Linked DNA regions of Homo sapiens: all the other regions are reported to be linked to region 2. Evidence: microRNA targets listed by miRTarBase, many of them from high-throughput screens and not tested one by one. Region 2 holds a microRNA gene; each other region holds the end of a gene's coding sequence.

The links. Region 2 holds the annotated microRNA hsa-miR-32-3p (CAAUUUAGUGUGUGUGAUAUUU, at 1,558-1,579, opposite strand). A microRNA usually pairs through its seed, bases 2 to 8, with sites in the 3' UTR of a target mRNA and lowers its output. Matches are read on the target gene's strand: a 7mer-m8 pairs with bases 2 to 8, a 7mer-A1 pairs with bases 2 to 7 and ends in A, and an 8mer does both.
Region 1: the mRNA of SUMO2 is a reported target of hsa-miR-32-3p. Seed matches in the 3' UTR shown: 7mer-A1 at 2,304-2,310 and 7mer-A1 at 662-668.
Region 3: the mRNA of WTIP is a reported target of hsa-miR-32-3p. Seed matches in the 3' UTR shown: 7mer-A1 at 2,089-2,095.
Region 4: the mRNA of ZNF567 is a reported target of hsa-miR-32-3p. Seed matches in the 3' UTR shown: 7mer-m8 at 2,244-2,250.

The regions. Positions count from the first base shown.
Region 1 is chr17:75,165,510-75,168,652 of GRCh38, forward strand. SUMO2 (small ubiquitin like modifier 2) reads right to left here. Exons shown (of 4, transcript NM_006937.4): 4 at 77-2,892. The coding sequence ends at 2,830. Among named protein-coding and RNA genes, the nearest start is that of JPT1, 13 kb to the left of the region's middle.
Region 2 is chr9:109,044,674-109,047,816 of GRCh38, forward strand. MIR32 (microRNA 32) reads right to left here and starts at 1,625; the gene lies at 1,556-1,625. All of the region lies in intron 14 of TMEM245 (transmembrane protein 245), which reads right to left.
Region 3 is chr19:34,500,061-34,503,203 of GRCh38, reverse strand. WTIP (WT1 interacting protein) reads right to left here. Exons shown (of 8, transcript NM_001080436.2): 8 at 1-3,075. The coding sequence ends at 2,935. Among named protein-coding and RNA genes, the nearest start is that of WTIP, 20 kb to the right of the region's middle. RefSeq lists a silencer at 1,335-1,394.
Region 4 is chr19:36,719,982-36,723,119 of GRCh38, reverse strand. ZNF567 (zinc finger protein 567) reads right to left here. Exons shown (of 6, transcript NM_001322917.1): 6 at 1,784-3,138. The coding sequence ends at 2,452. Among named protein-coding and RNA genes, the nearest start is that of ZNF567, 34 kb to the right of the region's middle.

The DNA.
Region 1 (3,143 bases), not on the chromosome of region 2:
GAGCAAGACTCCGTCTCAAAAAAACAAAAAACAAAGGTACAGCAGATTAAGAGAAATAACACATAATACTACATGGTGACTTGATGGTAGATTATATTGGTAGGTTGACAATCAGTATGGACAAAAACAATCAACAAGCATTAGGATACTATCTCTAGTCCCAGTTTTATAGTCACCGTCTATTTCACAACTTTTCTGGAACTTGGCTTTCTCATCTATAAAATGGCAGTGAGGCCGGGCGCAGTGGATCATGCCTGTAATCCCAGCACTTTGGAAGGCCAAGGCGGGTGGATGAACTGAGGTCAGGAGTTTGAGACCAGCCTGGCTAACATGGTGAAGCCCTGTCTCTACTAAAAATACAAAAAAATTAGCCGGGCATGGTGGCGGGCACCTTTAGTCCCAGCTACTGGGGAGGCTGAGGCAGGAGAATGGCGTGAACCCGGGAGGTGGAGCTTGCCGTGAGCCAAGATTGCGCCACTGCACTCCAGCCTGGGCGACAGAGCAAGACTCCGTCTGAAAAAAAAACAAAAACAAAAACAAAAACTGTAGTGGTTGGGCATGGGGTCTAACACCTGAAACCCCAACACTTTGGGAGGCCAAGACAAGGGACTGAGGCCAGAAGTTCGAGACCAAACTGGTCAACATGGTGAGACCCCACCTCTAATTTAAAAATAATAAAAATTTGGCCGGGCACAGTGGCTCAAGCCTGTAATCTCAGCACTTTGGGAGGCCAAGGCAGGCAGATCACCTGAGGTCGGGAGGTGGAGACCAGCCTGACCAACATAGAGAAACCCCTTCTCTACTAAAAATACAGAATTAGCCAGGTATGATGGTAGATGCTTGTAATCCCAGCTTTTCCGGAGGCTGAGGGAGGAGAATCAGTTGAACCCGGGAGGCGGAGGTTGCAGTGAGCTGAGATCATGTCATTGGTCTCCAGTTGGGGCAACAAGAGCGAAACTCCATCTCAAAAATAAACATTTTTAAAAAATTAAAAAGGGGCTGGGCATAGTGGCTCACGCCTGTAAACCCAGCACATTGGGAGGCTAAGGCAGATAGATCACTTAAGATCAGGGGTTTGAGCCCGGCCTGGACAATATGGCGAAACACTCTCTATAAAAAATACAAGAATTAGCTGTGGTGGCATGCACCTGCGGTTCTAGCTACTCACGAGGCTGAGCAGGGAGGATCTCTTAAGACCTGGAGGTGGAGGTTGCAGTGAGCCAAGATCACACCATTGCACCACTCCAGACTAGGCAACAGAGGCATAACCTCTTTCAAAAAGACCTAAGACGGGAGGCTGAGGCAGGAGAATGGCGTGAACCCGGGAGGCGGAGCTTGCAGTGAGCCAAGATTGTGCCACTGCACTACAGCCTGGGAGACGGAATGATGCTCCATCTCAAAAAACCACCACCAAAAGAAACCCTAAGAAACAAAAATTAAAATAATAAAGACTGTAGTGACCTGTATATTTAAGGTTCTGAGGATGGATATATATAGATATTTTCTGTCCCTCAATATTCTTGAATAGGCCAGGCGTGGTGGCTCATGCCGTAATCCCTGCACTTTGGGAGGCTGAGGCGGGTGGATCACCTAAGGTCAGGAGTTCGAGACCAGCCTGGCATACGTGATAAAACCCTGTCTCGACTAAAAATAGAAAAAAAATTAGCTGGGCGTGGTGGCATGCACCTATGACCCCCCAGCTACTCAGGAGGCTGAGGTTGCAGTGAGCTGAAATTGCACCACTACACTCCAGCCTGGGCAACAAGAGGAAAACTCCGTCTCAAAAAAAAAATCCTTGAATAAGGAACGAAAACTTTATTTTAGGTTAGGGAGTATTTACTTATGATAAGTGCAGGCTAGAATGGTTCAGTGTTTTATCAGCAACAAAGGCAAAATCAGAACTTTTTCCTTGCCACATGTGCTACCCTATACCCTATGCTCCGTGCCTCACTTAATATACAGAAAATACCTGGAAATCCACGATACTATGGCCCAATTTTTCTGCTAGTATACTTGCATATTAACATGGGACCTAGAGAAACTTTTGGAACAAGGTGATATTTATAAAACTGTTATTCTTTGTTTGGCATCAGTATCAGTCTGTCAGAAACACCAAGTAGCTTTATTTCCTTCTTGAAATGTTACTTCTAAGCAGGCCTATTTATGTTTTTTCTAAGCCTCAATTTTCTATTTAATATTTCTCAGAATAAAGAAAACAGCTCATTTTAAACAAGAAGTTTATTTAAACAACAAGACGCTTGACTTGAAGGGAAAACTATCTAGGATTCTTTTTTGTTTTAGAGTAATTTATCCCTACTTAAAGACAGATTGCCCTACATGTAACAGCTACGTACAAAAAAGTTATAAAATTGTCCTTGGTTTTACAATGATAAATGAAAAACATTAAAATTCTCCAATTGAACAAGGTATGCAAGGATTTTTATGTTGTTGTTTTTTTTTTTTGTTAAAACAGTGAGAGCAAAATAACTTACTGGAATATAAAGATAAGAGCTGAATGAGCATGCCACTAATGGAGAAAGGGGGTATTTTCACAGAATCAGTATTTTTCCCCATCCCGTCTCCACTTGATGTCAATCAAAACATACCATTGGCTGTTTAGTTAAAAAAAAAAAAAATGCAATATGCTTGTGCACATATACCAGTTACTTTATGTACAATAAAGGAATGGGGAAGGGGGAAATGAAAGAATAGAGAAAACTATACGGTAGTAGTCAGGATGTGGTGGAACCAAATTGCAGTTTTCTAATTGAGAATGTAATCTTGGTCTTTAAAGAACAGAGTTCTGGAGTAAAGAAGCAGGTTCCCTTTTCAGTAGACACCTCCCGTCTGCTGTTGGAACACATCAATTGTATCTTCATCCTCCATTTCCAACTAGCATAAAAGAAAAAACAAATGTAAAAGCACTGATTAAGTTCTGAAAATTAATGATTTTTGGGTTTAAGTATGCTGAAAACATGTACATGTTCCACTAAGTTCCAAGTTTCATTATTTTAGATGTCTCATAGCTTAATGTATCAACACACTTGGTTTAAGTAATTTTTCACTTGGCTTCCTTTTTTATGACTATTAGATAAAACTTTTTTGTTTTTTTTTTGAGACAGGATTTCTGTCACCCAGGCTGG
Region 2 (3,143 bases):
GTACATAATAATGTTTCAATACATATAATGTATAGTAATCAGATAGGGGTAATTGGCATATCCATCATCTTGATCATTTATCATTTTGGTTTTTTTTTTTTTTTTTGAGATAGAGTCTCACTGTCGCCCAGGCTGCAGTACAGTGGCATGACCACAGCTCACTGCAACCTCCACCACCTGGGTTCAAGAGATTCTCCCACCTGAGCCTCCCGAGTAGCTAGGACTACAGGTGCATGCCACCAAGCCCAGCTAATTTTTGTATTTTTAGTGGAGATGGGGTTTCTCCATGTTGGCCAGGCTGGTCTTGAACTCCTGACCTCAGGTGATCTGCCCGCCTTGGCCTCCCAAAGTGCTGGGATTTGAGGCGTGAGCCACCGTACCTGGCCTCATTTCTTTTGTTGGGAGCATTCTGTATCTTCCTTCTAGCTACTTGAAATGATATAATTTATTGTTGAACTACAGTCATTCTACAGTGCTGTAGAACATTAGAACTTATGCCTTCTAAGTAATTTTTGTATCCTTTAACAAATCTCTCTCTACCCACCCCTTCCCAGCCCCAACCTCCCTTGAGAGGTCACATCTTCCCTTTCTTGATTAATCTGCCCTGGAAACCCAGCTCCACAGGGTGTCATATAGCAACCTGGCTGACATTAGATTTCCAGCATGAGGGGAACGGCCGAGCTGCTGAAGGGCACAGGGGATGAGCTGCTTACGTGGAATTCTTCCATTCTCACCCTCCAAAACAGTGGTGAAACACAGAAACATACAATGACAGCATCACAATAGATCATCTGGAGGCTATGGTAGTAGTAAATATTAATTCAATATTTTCATACAGTAATACATGGTTTTGTGTCCTTGACAATGCCTAGTGATTGTGGATGCTTACTCTAATGCTAACTAAAAAAATAACAAGGGGTTGTTTCAATTACATAGGCAAATAGTAAACGTGTATTTCAAAACTAGTTCCATTATTAGCCCACTAAAATGAATTTAGCAGTTTTCGAAGCATCACAATGAGAAAGTAAAAGACACATTTTTAAGGTAATTTACCTTGGAAACTTAAGTTTATGAGATGAATCTTTCATCAGGTAGGTTAAGCATACCTTTACTGTCTTGATTATTATTTAAGAACTCCAGTTAATTTAATTTCCCCAAATATGCATAAGAGATTTCTGCTTCTCTATTCCAGTGTTGGGAGAGATTTCTTCAAATAAATGAAAATACATTTTCTTACAGCTTTACATTCTTCCTTATACATTTAAATATTGTTTATACTCTTAAATCAATGAGAATTTGTAATAAATATTTCATTTGCTCAAAGTAAAAAATGGAAACACTGATTTACTAAATGATCATTGCTGACTTTTTTTAATCCAAATACTTTTAATTCTCCAAAATTGGAAGGTACCGATGGGAAGCATGTTCACTTTCCAAATGAGAATCGCATGGCATACACACTGTCTTATCTAATTCATCAGGACACCCACCCACTGGCACTGAAAAGCTGTAATCCCAGCAAGCAAGAGCCATACCCGTGTGCATGCACTCATGTGAAAATATCACACACACTAAATTGCATTGAGGCCGTGACAACATGCAACTTAGTAATGTGCAATATCTCCACCAGAGCAAGCAGAATGGGAGCATCAGGGAAGAAGGGTGTGATGTATACATTCAGGAGACAACATGCTGCTGAAGAGAGGAAAATGGTCTGGGGATAAAGGATGCATGCCACTGACTCAAAACTTCATGAAATGAAAACCCAATTGCAAATGTATTCAACTGAGAAGAATACTTATTCAGAATCAAAATAATGAGTAAGGTTCAAAACTTCAATGAGATAGTGATCATAAAGAAACCACATACTTCAGAAGGCAAAGCTTCACGAACAGACACTATCACTGTCTGGTCATGCAATTAACCCCCAATTTCAATTCCATTTTTGACTTATTCACAGATCATATAAATGAATGTAATGATTTCCACTTAGCTGCAACATAGATGATGATTAATGACTGATGCTTATAAAAGTTGGTATCACTGATATTTGTAGGCTAAACTGCACTTTGAGGACATTACAATATTTTCATAGTCATTCATAAATTATAAATAACCACTTATTTTTCCCTCAAAATCTTTTTCCATGAAGAAACATATTGCCTCTTCAACACAAACCTTCAGGATGAAAAATCCAACAGGAGCTCTTAGAAAGAGAACTCACTACCATCTTCTCCACAGGAGAAAGCTCTTCAGAGGAATCTCTGTAAAATCTGTACATTTTAAGTCTTGAATTTGAGCCAGTAAAGAAACAGCCCTAGGAACTTAAACTGCAAAAAAAACACCTTGAATTATAGCCTTAAAATTACATAACTTGATATAGCTTTGGTTAGAAAAATGTCTCAGGCCATAACCCATTCTTTAGTCTGTACCATATTTATCAGACTCATAAAAATCTATCAATTCTGAGAACCATTAGATTATAGTTCTGGTACCAAAGGTTGTTAAAATTTTTTCTGTATTTAAAATAAGGTGATAATAAAACAAATGGTTTTTAAATGCCAGTATACTATGGAACCAAGACATAAGCTACTGTTATAATACATAATTAGTGTATGCACTCCCAAGAAGGGAAGTCGAATCTAATTTGTAAAAGACTGATTTCCTCATATCGCTGTAGATGACAGCACTCTTTGTAATCTCAAATTCTCTCCTGAGCCAAAGACCTGAATTTCTAAATGCCACCCTCTTATGTCCACAAATATAAGTCATGATCTTCCCTAACCAGCTCCTCTTGAAAGAAGGCATCATGGTGTAACAGAGTATGTGCTTTCAATCAGCTGAACCTAGGTGTGACTAACAGCTTTACTTACCACTGACTGGCAAACACAACAGCTAGGAATTAAGTTTAAAACAAAAAAGGTGGCATATTTGGTATGAAAAAAGGTGACAGACATTTAGAGGATGGTCTGCTGTAAGAAAGCAGAACAAGAGAAAATTCAAAAGCTGTGATGTGAAAATAGAAACATTTTTCTAAGAATAAGAGTCAGTAACAATGAAGATTACTTGAGGAAAATGGAAGCATCATCTTTCTTGAAGTTCTTTATGAACAAGGTAGATATTTTTCTGCAAAGCTTGGCTTA
Region 3 (3,143 bases), not on the chromosome of region 2:
AGGGCAGAGTGTGGCCTGGTGAGGCCACTGCCCCAAGGGCCTATGCAGTCCCTTGACTGCGACCTTTGACAAAGTGTGTTACTTGGGTGGGGTTGGGGGGACTCCAAGCTGTGATGACTCAGGCCAGCTGGCAGGAGCGTGCATGGTGACCGGGATGGAGCAGGGTTCAGTGAAGCAACCCCATGGATATAAGCACAGGGCCCACCATGGCACATGCAAAGGAAGGGGAGGAGAAGGACCGGGTTGGCAACAAGGAGAAACCCGGCTCAAAGCAGGTTTGAGGGAGGAAGCAGAGAGGACAGTTCAGAGGACAGCTTTGCAACTGACCAGTTAGAAGGCAAAGGAGCCCAGGCCAGGCACGGTGGCTCAAGCCTGTAATCCCAACACTCTGGGAGGCCAAGGTGGGCTCGCTTGAGGTCAGGAGTTTGACACCAACCTGGCCAACATGCTGAAACCCCCTCTCAACTAAAAATACAAAAAGTAAGGCCAGGCACAGTGGCTCACGCCTGTAATCCCAGAACTTTGGAAGGTCAAGGCGGATGGATCGCTTGAGGCCAGGAGTTCCAGACCAGTCTGGCCAACATGGTGAAACCCCGACTCTACTAAAAATACAAAAATTAGCCAGGCCTGGTGGCGCACACTTGTAATCCCAGCACTTGGAAGGCTGAGGCAGAATGCTTGAACGTGGGAGGCAGAGGTTGCAGTCAGCCCAGATCACGCCACTGCACTCCAGCCTGGGCGACAGAGCTAGACTCTGTCTTTAAAAAAAAAAAAAAAAAAAATAGCTGGGCGTCATGGGGCACACCTGTAGTCTCAGCTACTGGGGAGGCTGAGGCATGAGAATTACTTGAACCCTGGAGGCAGAGGTTGCAGTAGGCCCAGATTGTGCCAACGCACTCCAGCCTGGGCGACAGAACGAGACCCTGTCTCAAAAAAAAAAAAAAAAAAAGCCGGGCACAGTGGTACACACCTGTAATCCCAGCACTTTGGGAGGCTGAGGTGGGTGGATCGCCCCTGAGGTCAGCAGTTGGAGACCAGCCTGACCAACATGGTGAAACCCCATCTCTACTAAAAATACAAAATTAGCCGGGCGTGGTGGCGTGCGCCTGTAGTCCCAGCTACTCGGGAGACTAAAGCAGGAGAATTGCTTGAACCCGGGAGGCGGAGGCTGCAGTGAGCCAAGATTGTGCCACTGCACTCCAGCCTGGGTGACACAATGACACTCCGTCTCAAAAAAAAAAAAAGAAAAGAAAAGAAAAAGCAGCTCAGCTAGCAGGAGAGAGCCAGCACCGGAGCCTCCACGCCTGGACTTTACTCTCTGGCCCCAGTGGGATCACCTCCTCCAAGAAGTGGCCCCTGGTCCTGCTGAAGGCCCCACTCTAAGATGCAGCGCTCTCCACGCTGTGTAAGTCCCTGGCTAAGGCTCCCTGACCACCCCTGTACTTGCCGGCTCAGCCCACCAGGTGGCGCCCGCGCCATGCCTCGGCCCTGCTGGACTCCGAAGCCGCCACTTCCCTGCGGGCGCCTCCTGGTGTTTGTTCCCTTGGGCTCGGCCTGGACAGCCCTGCTGGTTCCCGGAGCCTAGCCCAGCCCCGCGAGTGATTCACAGAACTCACACCTGACGGTGGGGGAGGAAGGGGAGAGCAGCAGCCAAGAGGTGGGTCCAGGCTCTCCCAGGGGCGAGTGACTTCAGTCCAGATGTCCCCTGAACCCCTGGGGATTCCGCATCAGGACCAGGGCCTCCCATGTCCAGACCCCACATTCCCGTCAGTGTGTCCCGGGGAGCACGGAGGGACCTCCACACTGCATTTCATGGGGCGACCGCCCTTAACACCCGGACACACACGGAACCCCACACTACCCTAAAGTCTGAAAGGTGGACACGCGTGGCGAAGTTTTAGAGGAATTTCAGGACAAAAGTCCTGAAACCACAAGGTTCTTACCACCTGAAAACCAGCTCCGTAACAGACAAACTAGACACTTGTGAGTTTGCCGGCATTTGCTTTAAAAATAACAAGGCTGGTCCAAGATCTTAGAAGAAAATTATATTCTTTTAAAGAAAATGAAAATATCCTCAAGGGAAAAACTTAATTTAAGTCAAATCTTGTCCTTTTGTCGTGGAGCCCCTTGCCCCGCGCGCAGACACAGGCTTTCCTGAAGCGTGGCCAGGGCGCCCCTCTCATCGCTCCTGAGCGTGACCCGGGGCTGGAGCCGCACGGGGATTTTCCCGAGCTGAGCAGGGGGGTCGGGGGGCCCAAGCCAGGAGCCCTGGAAGAGGGAGCAGGGCGGCAACTGGGGCCGCAAACACCCATCAAAGTCCCCAGGACCAATTCCCACAGACACCACGTGGCCACAGGCAGTGCCCTTTGCAGGCCCCCTCCCCAAGGGTGTCACCCCTCACCCCCTCCTGGGACCCCGCCTAAACCAGGCACCCTTCCACCCACCAGCAGGAACTGCGCTAGGAGATGCAGGAACACCCATGTCCCCGCCAGCCCCGCCTTCCAGACCACACCCTGCCCGGGAGTGCGCTTTGCGAGGTCGGGGTCGGGGGGGAGGGCGGGGGCCAGGCCCCTGAACAACAGACAGCAGCTCCCACCCAGCAATGCAGCCGGGTCACCTCGCACCCCTGGCCAAGGCAGGGGCCCTCTCCAGCCTGGTGACCCACGGCCTACCCTGAGGCTGCAGGGCACAGGGGGCCTCCAAGTGGAAAGCTGGTGATGGGGTGGGTGGGAGGCAGGGCCCGCAGGGAAGTGACTTGAGCAGGCACAGACGGTGAATAAATAGAAGCTTCCACGCGGGGGTCCGGCCCCTGCAGACAGCAGCTCGGTGGGAAACTGATTGGAGGGAGCTCCCCTGACGCTGACCAGGGCCACCCACGCGGGCCCTCCCTCCACACCCACACCCACCCCGGCCCAGGGACGGGTTTTCCCCTGCTCAGAGCTCAGTGACGTGCACAGTGGGTGAGGGAAGAGGCCCAGGTTGGAGGCGCCGCAGGTGGCAACGACGACACAGTAGGTGGCCCGCCAGGGGATAGCAACGGCGTCCCTCCTCCCCGCTCAGCTGCAGCCCGCAGTCCTAGGGAAGAACACAGCCCCCAGCCCCAGAGTCAGCAGACAAGCGCACATCAGAGGTCACGGGACGGG
Region 4 (3,138 bases), not on the chromosome of region 2:
ATATACTAGTATATAACTCCCCTATAAATTCACAATGACAAAATCCTTGGGTTCTCACAGTTCTGATTATAAGTCCTATAATTACCTGTTTTAGTTACTTTAATAGGTTTATTAAACCTATTAATAATTCTTTATATTCTTTAAAAATGTATACTTTAAAAAATCTTTATGCATATATAAATTATTAAGGCTAAATTTAATGACATGTCTAGTCATTATAGACAAGGCATTTTACATATATACACACATACACACACGTGTGTTTTCTGTGTGCTACTATCAAGTCTAAATTTTTATGCTTTTGTCTCATTGCCCTGTTCATTTTTTGCTATGAAATTATCAGAAAAATAAGGATTGACAAGAATGGTTCCATTTACTACTGATTGGCAATGGCTGTCCCTCTCTAACAGGCCAGAGGGTCTGTTTAATATATTTAATGTCAAATATTTGAACCCTGAACCATCTTTCTGTTTATGCAGATATGGTTTACAGTTCTAAATCTTTTAAAAAACAATTTTCAGGCTGGGCACGGTGGCTCACGCCTGTAATCCCAGCACTTTGGGAGGCTGAGGCGGATGGATCACGAGGTCAGGAGTTCAAGACCAGCCTGGCCAACACAGTGAAACCCTGTCTCTACTAAAAATACAAAAATTAGCTGCGTGTGGTGGCACGTGCCTGTAGTACCAGCTACTTGGGAGGCTGAGGTAGGAGAATCGTTTGAACCCAGGAGGCAGAGGTTACAGTGAGTTGAGACCATGTCATTGCACTCCAGCCTGGACGATAGAGACTCCATTTCAAAAAATAAATTAATTAATAAATTTCAATTTCTACTGAATTTTATTACAATGACTTCATATACATAGTAAATACTGGTTATAAGTAATCCTTCCCAAGAAGGACCTGCAATAATGCTGTTCAAGTTGCCACTGAGCTTACTCTCCTCGCCAAAAGGATACCGTGGAAGTCACTGTCTTCGCAGATTTCCAATTCTCAAACATCAAAATCTCTCTAGTCACTTATTTGGGATTTTCAGAGACTTACATTTCTTATAGATTATGGTAGAAAAGGCTTATGTTGTAGCCAGGCGTGGTGGGTCACCCTGTAATCCCAGCACTTTGGGAGGCCGAGGCAGGCGGATCATGAAGTCAGGAGTTCGAGACCAGTCTGACCAACGTGGTGAAACCCCGTCTCTACTAAAAATACAAAAATTAGCTGGGCGTGATGGCACATGCCTGTAATCCCAGCTACTCAGAAGGCTGAGGCAGGAGAAGCACTTGAACCCAGGAGGCAGAGGTTGCAGTGAGCCGAGATCGCTCCACTGCATTCCAGCCTGGGCAACAGAGCGAGACTCTGTCTCAAAAAAAAAAAAAAAAAAGAAAAAAAAAAAGACTCTGGTACTCTCAAATTTTCCTCACCTATTTCCCTTCTCAATGTCCCTTTCTCTTGTATGAATTCTAATTCCTTGATATTAAATAAGGTGTAATAAGCTATGGCTAAAGTACCCCTAAAATCATGACAACTACAAGATTTCCCTCCAATACGAATTTGCTTGTTTTGCATTTAAGCATTGAGAGACAGCTAAAGGCCTTCTACATATACTGCATTCACATGTCCATGATTTATTAATAGCCTTCTCACAATTATAAAGCCGCAAGGTTTCTTTTTAGTAGAAATTCTCCAGTCTGAATGACCAAAAAAACCTCATATATACTCTTGGAATGAATAAGTCCAGTCCCAGGTATAAATTCAACAGAAATACATACACGCAAACACACACATGATATAAACAAGAATATTTACAGCAGTATTTTTATTATTACACAAAAGTATAAAAAATACAAATATCCATCAATAGGATAAACAGCAATATATTCTTAAAATGGAATAGTATGCAAAATGAAAATACACTACTGCCACATGCAATAATGTACAGATCTTAAAAAATTGAGTGAAATAAGCAAGACACAAAATAATTCATGATGTCTGATAAAATATATATTTATAAAATTGAAAACATGCAAAAACTACGTTTTGATGTTATAGGCTACGGAAGTGGTAACTCTTAGGTAAGTAACAACTAACTGCTTTTTATTACAGAGTGCAATGAGAAATATAGTTCATAAATATTTTCTCTTATGGAGATTAATACTTATAATCATTGTGTATCTTGTCTCTGCATGTATTATATAAGTATTTTTAAAAAATAAACTATTTGAGTCAGTAGGAAGAGCAGTTGACTTTAAAATTTAGCTTCATAGCTGATAGAGTTCAATAATAATGATCATACTTATTTTATATGCTAGTAAACAGTAGACAGTTATTCCGTATGGTACTTTAATAATTATTAGACTTGTGATTTAAAATTACATTAACATGTTTCAGCATGCTTTTCTTTTTAAAACTAAATGTTTACAACAGCTTGTAAAGAATTCATATAAGAAACCACATCATTTATTGCATTTCAATGTTTTCTCCCTTGTGAGTTCTTTGATGGACAATGAGGTTTCTCTTATAACTGAAAGACTTACCACACTCATTACAAACATAGGGTTTCTCACCTGTGTGAGTTCTCTGATGTACAATAAGATTTGTCTTCTGGCGGAAGCACTTTCCACATTCACTACATTTATATGGTTTCTCTCCCGTATGAGTTCTTTGATGATGAATGAGATATGACTTCCTGCTAAAGGCTTTCCCACACTGAGGACATTCATAGGATTTCTGGCCGGTATGTATTTTCTGATGTACAGTGAGGGTTGCTTTCTGGCGAAAGGACTTCCCACATTCATTACAAACATAGGGTTTCTCCCCTGTATGAATTCTCTGATGTAGATTGAGATTTGTCTTTTGACTGAATGATTTACCACATTCATTACATTCATATGGTTTCTCTCCTGTGTGAGTTCGGTGATGATCAATGAGGTATGACTTCATTCTAAAGGCCTTCCCACAGTGAGGACATTCATAAGATTTCTCCCCTGTATGTGTTCTCTGATGTGCTACAAGGGTTGTCTTCTGGCGGAAGGACTTTCCACATTCACTACAAATATAGGGTTTCTCCTCATTATGAGTTTTCTCATGAAGAGCAAGGGTTGTCTTCTGGGAGAAGGATTTCCCACATTCATTACAAATATAGGG